Homo sapiens: one gene and its partners. The protein of the gene in region 3 purifies or fractionates together with the protein of the main gene of each other region. This does not show direct contact. Each region holds a gene or a part of one and is shown on either strand. Other genes may lie near its edges.

Evidence for each region.
Region 1: the proteins of SLMAP (region 3) and STRN4 purify together in Homo sapiens (affinity purification with mass spectrometry; 2 studies listed by BioGRID and IntAct, with this or other methods). This does not show direct contact.
Region 2: the proteins of SLMAP (region 3) and RABGEF1 purify together in Homo sapiens (affinity purification with mass spectrometry; 3 studies listed by BioGRID and IntAct, with this or other methods). This does not show direct contact.

The regions. Positions count from the first base shown.
Region 1 is NC_000019.10:46,739,821-46,743,474, reverse strand, and holds part of STRN4 (striatin-4), read left to right. Parts: intron 1-3,654. UniProt on the Homo sapiens protein: Calmodulin-binding scaffolding protein which is the center of the striatin-interacting phosphatase and kinase (STRIPAK) complexes.
Region 2 is NC_000007.14:66,743,598-66,747,251, forward strand, and holds part of RABGEF1 (rab5 GDP/GTP exchange factor), read left to right. Parts: intron 1-3,654. UniProt on the Homo sapiens protein: Rab effector protein acting as linker between gamma-adaptin, RAB4A or RAB5A. Involved in endocytic membrane fusion and membrane trafficking of recycling endosomes. Stimulates nucleotide exchange on RAB5A. Can act as a ubiquitin ligase.
Region 3 is NC_000003.12:57,927,205-57,930,553, forward strand, and holds the end of SLMAP (sarcolemmal membrane-associated protein), read left to right. Parts: intron 1-91; coding exon of another isoform or gene 92-184; 3' UTR 185-2,799; downstream 2,800-3,349. UniProt on the Homo sapiens protein: Associates with the striatin-interacting phosphatase and kinase (STRIPAK) core complex, forming the extended (SIKE1:SLMAP)STRIPAK complex.

The DNA of each region.
Region 1 (3,654 bases), on a different chromosome or scaffold from region 3:
TTTGCACCAGTGCACCGCACAGCACCCACCACACCATCTTCTCATCCTGGAGGCTGATGAGAGAAAAGATGTTTATCCCCTCACTTACTGACCCTTCTTGGAGTTTGAGAGGAACTTGTGTCTGGCATGGTACCAGCACTGTCACTTTGTACTTTTGTTTTCTTTTATTCTGTTAAGTTAGTAAAAATTCAGACATCTCAGAGGGGTGTGTGTGTGTGTGTGAGTGTGTGTATACACATATATATGTAAGTGAAAAAGGAAAGTTCCTTCTCTTCGTCCCTTTCCTGCTCTTCTCTCCTGAGAGAGAAGAGTTATTGTGCTTATGTAATAGATGAACTACTGCTGTATGTATCATTTTGTGACATAATAATCTGTTTTGGTTTTCCTTTCATATCAGCACAGAGAACTCTTTCTTTTTGATAGCTGCATAGCGTCCCACGGGATGTTTGCACCATAGCTGATTGAGTTTGACCCTGGTTGGTGGACTTTTAGATTTTTTCTAGTTTTTCCCCCATCAGACATGGCTGCAGTGAGAACCCCTTATTCCTGTGCAAGAATGAAGCAGAACAGATGAGTGGAATAGTAGAATGGATGTGTTTATGAAACAGTGATTGGGCTGGGCGCGGTGGCTCGCGCCTGTAATCCCAGCACTTTGAGAGGCCAAGGCAGGTGGATCACAAGGTCTGGAGTTCAAGACCAGCGTGGCCGATATGGTGAAACCCCACCTCTACTAAAAATACAGAAATTAGTCGGGCGTGGTGGTGGGCGCCTGTAGTCCCAGCTACTCGGGAGGCTGAGGCAGGAGAATCGCTTGTACCCGGGAAGCAGAAGTTGCAGTGAGCCGAGATCACACCACTGCACTCCAGCCTTGGTGACAGAGCGAGATGCCATCTCAAAAAAAATAAAAATAAAAAAAGAAACAGTGAATGACTCTGCCACATTGACCCACCAGTTTACTCTCCCATCAGCGGCACCTCTTTTACACACCTTTACTTGAACACTTAGTGCTAACAGACGGTGTGACTTCCCCTGTGAGATCCCTTAAGAGCTAGGCAGTGTCAGATTTTCCTGATGGACTCTGAATAACTTTTCTCTGAAGAGCTTAATACAGCTGCTCCTAGCAGAAGACCTGCCGTGCGACCCTGCTTGGTACCTGTGTGTTGAATGGCAGAGAAGGCAGCCCCCAGGGAGGTCCTGCCAGTAGTCACCATAAGTTTGGAGCAGGAAGGTGGCGGAGCTGCAGTCTGATAATGAGCAGGCATTTGCTAGGTGGGGGATTCTGAGAAGTAAGTAACGTGGTTTCTGCCCATCCGAAACTTCCAGGCTGGCAGAGGAAGCTTGTTTGTGCAGGGGACCGCAGAGCTGTAGATGTTCATGCACAGTTGATTGTGTGGCTCTGCCCCTGTTCTGTGGCAACTCTGAGAGGGGAAGCTTTTTGAGGATGGGAGGGACCTTTTAATGAGGGATCTGAACTGGAGATTTGTATAGGAGCAGCGACAGGGACCTGCAGTGAGTGCGGTGCCAGCAGAGAATGTGCGGAGCTGCCCCTGCCCACTTCAGCTTCCTGGGGGCCCATTCCTGCCAGCAGCTGCTGAAGCTTGGGAAGGAGGCCCTTAGGAGATGCAGGGCTAGATGGCACGAAACGGGGACTCTTCCCAGCTAGCTGGGACAGGAAGCAGCGAATTCAGAGAGGCATCAGCTCCTGGGAGGACTGAATTGCTGGGACTCCTCCGAAGCCTTTAGATGTCGCCTTGCTGGGAATAGCTGGAGGGGCGGAGAGGCAGTAGCTGCCAGGTATCAGAAGGTTTTGGGAGCGCATGCTCTGCGGCTCTGGCTAGAGGGAGTGGCAGTGGGTGGATATGGTGAGCGGCACTTCCAGATCCCCGACCGACCCTCAGGCCTACCTTGGCCCTCGCAGACCAGACAGCCCGTGGGGGCTGCTGGCGTTTGCAGCGAGGGAGAGACTGGCCACTGACGCTTCCCGTTTTTGGTGGGTTTCCACCTCCCTGAGATGCTCCAACCATGTCTTTCTGGTTCTCTTTCCAGAGGCACTGGGAAAGGGACAGCAAAGCAGAGTGGGCAGCTGAGACCCTCACATCCTCATTAGGAGGAGGGAGACCACAGCTCGATGAGGCAGCAGAGGGATGAAGGGGGAACCCAGCCAGTGACAGGTCTGGTTGGGATGCCCAACTCCACCTCCTGCCCCCACAGATAGACCACTACTGTGTCCACTGCCCCGGCCTAGTCCAAGCCACTACCGTTCTGTCCTGGGATTTCTGGGACTGCCCTCATCTGTGATGGGGGTCTCTGTGTCCAGCTCTGCCGCTCTCCTGCTCCCTCCCTCTAGTCTCCCTCCAGAACTCCCTCCAGTCAGTTCTCCATGTTTTAGCTGGAGCTGCCTTTATAACATGCGAATCGGTTACCTCTCTGTACTTAAAACCCTTCCATGGCTTCACTGAGCCTTTTACAGGTTCTGAAGCAGCCATCCTGGCCTTTTTTAGAGTTCCTTAAGCCCACCATGCAGCTCTTGTCTCCGTCCTCTGCCAGCAGGGCCCTTCCCTCCCCTGGCTAACTTCTCTTCAGCTTCAGGCCTTAGCTGAATTGTCGCCTCTTGTCCCTCTTCCCATAGCGTCCTTCGCTCCCGCAATGGGGTCCTAGTCACATTGCATGTGAGTTGCTGCTCATGCCTGTCTCCTGCATGGGACTGAGCCCTGTGGGTGCAGGAACCACATGGCTCCTCTGTTATTCCCCAGCGCCTTACTGGGGCACCTGATGTGTGTGGGCAGTCACCAAACAGTGGCAGGTATTGACCAAGGTGTAGGTTCCCGGCAGGCTGAACTGCCCCTGGGAGGTTGAGGGATCAATCACCAAACCCCAGGAGGGAAGGGAGGAGAGTGAGGAGGAAAGTCAGGACTTGTCTTCGGTGGTCGGTCTGCCTCTCCTCACACCTTCTCCAGTGATTCAGAGAGTAGATTTGGGGGACTGAGAAGATACACAAAGGACAGAAACTCATGCTTCAGAGATGCTGATGTCATATAAGTAGTTTCCCTGTCTGGCCTTGGATGTTTATATACATATGTGTTGGTAAAAAGTGTTAAAAAGGAAAAAAATTTCCCATTCTTGAAGCGGACAGATGAGTTTTCTTTTCTATAAGGTAACTGGTGACATGTATTTCTTTTTTTTTTTGAGACGAAGTCTGGCTCTGTCGCCCAGGCTGGAGTGCAGTGGCACGATCTTGGCCCACTGCAATCTCCACTTCCCAGGTTCAAGCGATTCTCCTGCCTCAGCCTCCCGAGTAGCTGGGACTACAGGTGTGTACCACCATGCCTGGCTAAGTTTTTTGTATTTTTAGTAGAGATGGGGTTTCACCATGTTGGCCAGGCTGGTCTTGAACTCCTGACCTCAAGTCATCTGCCCACCTCAGCCTCCCAAAGGGCTGGGATTACAGGCGTGAGCCACTGTGCCTGGCCAATCCACAGACATTTCTAGTTGATCTGGGGTCTCCAAGGGATCCTACCTCCCGTAAGGAACTGGGCCCATTTCGAAGTTGCGAACAATGGACAGGGAGAATAAAAATGATGAAAGAAGTAGAAGCTGGCATTTGTTAGCCTTTATTCTGTGCCAGGCCTTGACTGAGCAGAACCTAGCACATGA
Region 2 (3,654 bases), on a different chromosome or scaffold from region 3:
TTCACGCCATTCTCCTGCCTCAGCCTCCTGAATAGCTGGGACTACAGATGCCCGCCACCATGCCTGGCTAATTTTTTCTATTTTTAGTAGAGATGTGGTTTCACTGTGTCAGCCAGGATGGTCTCAATCTCCTGACCTCGTGATCCGCCCTCCTCGGCATTCCAAAGTGCTGGGATTACAGGTGTGAGCCACCACACTTGGGCTAAATTTTTTTGTAGAGATGGAATCCTTGTATGTTTCCCAGGGTGCTCTCCAACCCCTGGCCTCAAGTGATTCTCTAGCCTCGGCCTCCCAAAGTGTTGGGATTACAAACATGAGCCACTGCACCCGGCCCTAAAATGGAATTTTATGTAACTCTTACACACAGGCTGCTATGTAGCTGATAAGGATAAATGTTTTCAGTGTAGTGCTTGATTATTTGCTTTTTTCTTTTCTTTTCTTTTCTTTTTTTTTTTTTTAAGACGGAGTCTTGATCTGTGACTGGGCTGGAGTGCAGTGGCATGATCTTGGCCACTGCAACCTCTGCCTCCTGGATTCAAGCGATTTGTGTGCCTCAGCCTTCTGAGTAGCTGGGACTGACCATAGATAGGCGCGCGCCACCACGCCCAGCTAATTACTGCTATCTTGTATTTTAATTTTTTCTGCTTATTAGATGTTTGAAATGGTGGCTCACGCCTGTAATCCTCGCACTTTGGGAGGCCAAAGTGGGAGGATTGCTTGAGGTCAGGGGTTGGAGACCAGCCTGGGCAAAATAGCAAGACTGCATCTCTACAAAAAAAAAAAAAAGATAGCCGGGCGCAGTGGCTCACGCCTGTAATCCCAGTACTTTGGGAGGCTGAGGCAGGCGGATCACGAGGTCAGGAGATCAAGACCATCCTGGCTAACACGGTGAAACCCTGTCTCTACTAAAAATACAAAAAATTAGCTGGGCATGGTGGCAGGCGCCTGTAGTCCCAGCTACTCGGGAGGCTGAGGCAGGAGAATGGCGTGAACCTGGGAGGTGGAACTTGCAGTGAGCCGAGATGGCGCCACTGCACTCCAGCCTGGGCGACAGAGCCAGACTCCGTCTCAAAAAAAAAAAAAAAAAAAAGATGCTTGACGTGAATGTATACTCATTTCCTAGTTGTTTCTTTCTATAAGGATGTCTGACCTGGCTAATTTGTAAACAGGAATTCTGCATTCATTTCTCTCTTTGCTTTCTCAACCCCAATTGAGCACACAAGTGTTTAATGAGTACTTAACTGATTTGATAAGAATAACTCATTGATTTCTTTGATTTTTTGTTGCTGGTTTTCAGTGAAAAAAATGTTATCAGCCGCACACGGTGGCTCACGCCTGTAATCCCAGCACTTTGGGAAGCTGAGGCGGGTGGATCATGAGGTCACGAGATCCAGACCATCCTGGCTAACATGGTAAAACCCCATCTCTAATAAAAATACAAAAAATTAGCCGGGCATGGTTGCAGGCGCCTGTAGTCTCAGTTACTCAGGAGGCTGAGGCAGGAGAATGGCGTGAACCCGGGAGGCGGAGCTTGCAGTGAGCCGAGATTGTGCCACTGCACTCCAGCCTGAGCGACAGAGCGAGACTCCATCTCAAAAAAAAAAAAAATGATATCAGTACTTACTCATTGTGATGTCTACATATAGAACTAAAATTCTGTTTACTTATGTGAGTCTTTGGCTAGAGACATAGAATTTCAGTCTTGACTGTGTGAGCTTAATTTCTGGCATGTGGGTTTTTATTGGCTGCAGAGGAAACATCTCTAGCAGAGATGACCTATCCCTCAAATGTAGGAAATACCTGTGTAAACCTAACACCTGTGACTCAGAATAGAAATGGTACCAAGTGAGTGGCTTCTTAGCCCATCAGTAAAGTTATCACACCATAGGCTGGGTGCGGTGGCTCACACCTGTAATCCCAACACTTTGGGAGGCTGAGGTGGGCAGATCACTTAAGGCCAGGAGTTTGAGACCAGCCTGGATCAAGATGGCAAAACTCCGTCTCTACTAAAATGCAAAAAACTTAGCCAGGCATGGTGATGTGCGCCTGTGATCTCAGCTACTCGGGAGTCTGAGGCACAAGAATCTCTTGATCCCGGGAGGCGGAAATTGCAATGAGCCGAGATTGTGCCACTGCACTCCAGCTTGGGCAACAGAGTGAGACTCTATCTCAAAAAAAAAAAAAAAAAAGTGATCACACTAAAACCAAGAGTTTCAGGCTGGTGCAGTGGCTCATGCCTATAATACCAGTGCTTTGGGAGGCCAAAGTGGGAGAATCGCTTGAGCCTAGGAGTTCCAGGCTGCAGTGAGCTGTGATCAAGCCACTGCACTACAGCCTGAGTGACAGAGTGATACCCTGTCTCTATAAAAAGAAGTTTCATAGTACAGGCCAAACATCTTGAAAATCTTATTAAATGTACACTTCTTTCATAGAGCACTGTAGAAACATCATGTGTGTTGTTTCACATGGCTGAAGTGAGTTTAAATGATCTGGACTATTGTTACAATATGTAAACATGTGAAATAACAGTTATCCCACTTAATATTATTTAACTTATGTTTATCTCTTTGATGTTTGGATAAAGCTCCTAAAATGCTTTAGGAAAACATTATACTTTTATGGTGCTGTTTTGAAGTTTCCTGTGAAATTCCTGTTTTCAATGAAGTTACTGTCAGTGGGATAGGAAGTGTGATTTTTTTTTTTTACTTTTCTTTTTTTCTTTTTGAGACGGAGTCTTGCTCTGTTGCCCAGGCTGGAGTGCAGTGGCGCGATCTTGGCTCACTGCAACCTCTGCTTCCTGGGTTCAAGGATTCTTCTGCCTCAGCCTCCCGAGTAGTTAACCACCATACCCAGCTAATTTTTTTTGTATTTTTAGTAGAGACGGGGTTTCACCATATTGGCCAGGCTGATCTCGAACTCCTGACCTCGTGATCCACCCGCCTCGGCCTCCCAAAGTGCTGCGATTACAGGCGTGAGCCACCGTGCCCGGCAGGAAGTGCAATTTTTATTTATAATATAACCTTTTTTTTTTTTTTTTTTTTTTGAGAACAGAGTCTTGCTCTGTCACCCAGGCTGGAGTGTGGTGGCACGATCTCTACTCACTGCAACTTCCACCTCCCCGGTTCAAGCGATTCTTGTGCCTCAGCCACCTGAGTAGCTGGGAATATGGGCTCCTGCCACCACGTCCGGCTAATTTTTTTTTTTGCTGGAGTGAGACTGAGTTTCAGCCTTGTTGCCCAGGCTGGAGTGCAATAGTGCGATCTTGGCTTACTACAACCTCTGCCTCCTGGGTTCAAGTGATTCTCCTGCCTCAGCTTCCCAAGTAGCTGGTGTTAACAGGCACGCGCCACCATGCTGAGCTAATTTTTTTATTTTTAGTAGAGACGGGGTTTCACCATGTTGGCCAGGCTGGTCTCGAATTTCTGACCTCAGGTGATCCACCTGCCTTGGCCTCCCAAAGTGCTGGGATTACAGGTGTGAGCTACCGTGCCCGGCCCTAGTGGAACATTTTAATTTGTTTCTGGTAGCATAGCTCTCTTGGCAATGGTCATTAAGAGGGCCAAATACCATTATTATGATCAATTAATTAAATGTGGTTAAAAGTCAGAAGTTAGAATAAGTATGTGTTCATGAATGCGTAAAATATTACACACT
Region 3 (3,349 bases):
AAGTATTCAGGACTCTCTGGAACCAAGGGGTTAATAGGTATGAAAAGAGAGGGGAGAATGTGATATTGACTCTTGGTTTCTTTCCACACAGAAACCCTGGCCCTGGATGCCCATGTTGGCTGCCCTGGTTGCAGTAACAGCCATCGTGCTGTACGTGCCAGGTCTGGCCAGAGCTTCTCCATGAGAGCGTTCCTTGAGTCCGTACACCGTCCTCCCTCTAGAAGCTGGCATCACACTCATGCTGGGGACAAACAGAACCATTTTCTTCCTCTTTACCTCTTAAAACAGCAGAAGTACAAGAATACAGCTGTAGGGTCATTGCTTTAAATTATATAAAATGTATCTGTCTATAAAGAAGATATAAAATTGTGACTTTATTCTACTGTAAGCAATAATTTGCTTGCAATTTTTCATGTAATTTTTAAATTAGTATGTTAAGATTCTGAATATTATGGTGGCCTAAAGTAGGCTTCTTGGTACACCAGATTATTTATAACATTAAATTTATGAGTATTTTACTCTGAATTCTGATCACCAGATAATTCATTTTTCTGATTTGATAACTACCCAAACCAAACAACCAATACATACATGGGAAGAGAGGCCCTGTGTGCTCAGTGCCTATCAGTTTGAAATATATACACATATATATATTTTTTACATATTTACGCCATTTTTACTTGTTATGAAACCACTGAGCTATTGGGAACAAGACTTAGAGACAACTATTTGCGTGGATTTTTTTTTTTTTAAGGAAAAATACGTTTGGAAAATAAACTGTTATGGTGATAATTTGGGGAATATGTGCACGCTTGTTCAGCCTTAATGTGACTTGAAGATGTGGAGGACATCAACTTTGAAAAACTTTCCATGAGAGTGTATTTTCTTGAGCAAACTGAAGTATTTCTGGGAGCAAAAACATAGTAATTACACAATTTCAGTGCAGTCAACCAAAATGTTGAGTCAATTGGAATGTAATTTATTAAACCATGTATTTAAAGAGATATTTTTCTTTAAAAGCCAAGTTACTTTCTCATATACAGCATTTTAGGAAGCATGATTTTTTTTTTCTATCATCTATTCCTCCAAGCATGTTTAATTGAAGAAAGTATTAATATCTCTTTAGATAAGCTTGTATTGACCTAATTTGGTTTATGATGTGTCAGAGCTAATTCATGTTCAGGGTGAGCGTTGTACCTACCAACAAATTTCCTGGTTGGGTATGCAAATGGTTATTTTCTTTTTATTGTTGTTAATTGGGACTTTCTGTTAATGAAAAGCACTATTCCCAAGATTAATAGTGTTCTATGCACAATGAAGCACCTAAAAACACTGCTTGATATTATAAATTTAAAACACAAGTGAAAGTTTAGCCATGGTTTTGTGCGGCATCATAGTTATGTCAATAAAGTTTATTTAGGTCATAGAATATCCTAAAGTATCACATAGTTAAATTTTTCAGTCAGTGAAGACCGGGAGGGAATGTCAGTGAATTGGCTTGAATGTTCTGTGGCAATCCACAGGTCTAGCCAAATATTGAAATAGGAGTTTAGGGTATAATTTGCCTTGTGATGTTTGGCAGTCACTGTTTATACTTTAAAGGTTATATTTTAAGCTATTTGAGATTGCTTTTGGGAAGATCACTAGATTTATGGAGGAATTAGTCACAAATGACTTGTAGAAAATACTGTCATATAGTTCATTTCATCATTTTCTGTTGCAGGAAGCCACTCCACCACAGAATGCTAATATGCCAGTGGTACCCAGTACCTCTTGTATATAGGTTATTGCAAATATTGTTCTGAAATGCTTAACTTCAGAATTACATTTTTTAAAGTAAATAATTGTTTTAAATCTATTTTGTAAAGATATAAAGTACAATAGAATTTCTGGAGTACAGATTAAACTATTTGCACTAACACACGTGACGTGCATGATTTAATAAAATAACTTTACTCTCCCTACGCATGTTTGAGTTGAATATCATTGAAGTTCTTAATGCTGACTCTACTATTGGGTTGTTAATAGTCTTCTCTTGACATGACTCTTTATGCAACATAACATACATTTGGTATTCTTCAGGGTTTAAAAGAAAACACTGAGCTGTTTCCTCCAAGTTTTATTAACCTTTTATTTAACTTACTGCTTTATTTTTTTCTCTTTTAATATGGTTATTGTTAAAATGAGAGTCACTTGCTAGACTGGTCTCTTTAAATGTAAGGTCTAGTATCAATATTTACTTCATTCAAGTGGAATAAATGGCTTTTTGTAGTTACTTCCAGTTTTCCTCAAGAATAGAAATAAGTCTGTTCATAAGCAATACCTTCAGTTTTGTTCAGTTCACTTCCACGTTAAATAAAGAATAGGATTATTCACTGGTAATAATAGAGTCATTAAGAAATATTAAGCATTGCAGCTAAAAATTGAACAACCCTGTAATGATACATTTAAGAATTATTCAAAGGTGCTACATGGCAGGGTTAGAGAATAAAAAGAACGTGGTGTTTGAAGCAAAACAGATCTGTATTGGCATCTTGGTTCTACCTTTTATCAGATGTTGTTGCCTTGTGCAAATCACATTTTCTCTGAGTCTCCATTTTCTCATTTATAACATGCGGAGAATAATACTTATATTTGTGGTAGTAGTGTGAACATTAAAAAGATAATGTATGTGAAGTACCATTCGAGTGGTGAATACGTTTTTATGAGAATGTCATACTGAAAAAATATTGCAAATATTAAAGTTTTAGGTAAGCCTAAACTTTAATCTACTTTAATTAAATGAATTGATTGACTCAACCATTCAGAATTTCTGTGTATGAGTGAGATATGTGTGTAACATTATGAATCCTGAGAAAGCATTATCACCTAGCTCTGTTTGTCGCCTTCATAGTTCACTCTTTTGGAAGTAATATGCTTGGTTTGGTGATGAACCAATTGCCCACAATGGTTTTGGAATTCCTGTTGTTATTGCCTTTAGAGCCACTTTGAGTCACATGTGAAAACCATTCACGTTGCCCTATAGTCAGAGGCTTTCAACCAAAACTAGTATTGCCTACTTGATCTCTCACTTTAATCACTACACTTGACCAAAATCTGGTGACTCTTGGCTGCTTCCAGTGACTATCTACTATCAAAAGGATGGGAATCTGCTACCAAAGAGAAAAAACTGCATGCAAATCAACTGAGTTAAAACTGCAGTCTTGGCTGGGTGCAATGGCTCACACCTGTAATCTCAGCACTTTGGGAGGCCGAGGCAGGTGGATCACCTGAGGTCAGGAGTTGGAGACCAGCCTGGCCAACATGGTGAGACCCTATCTCTACTAAAAATACAAAAATTAACCGGGCA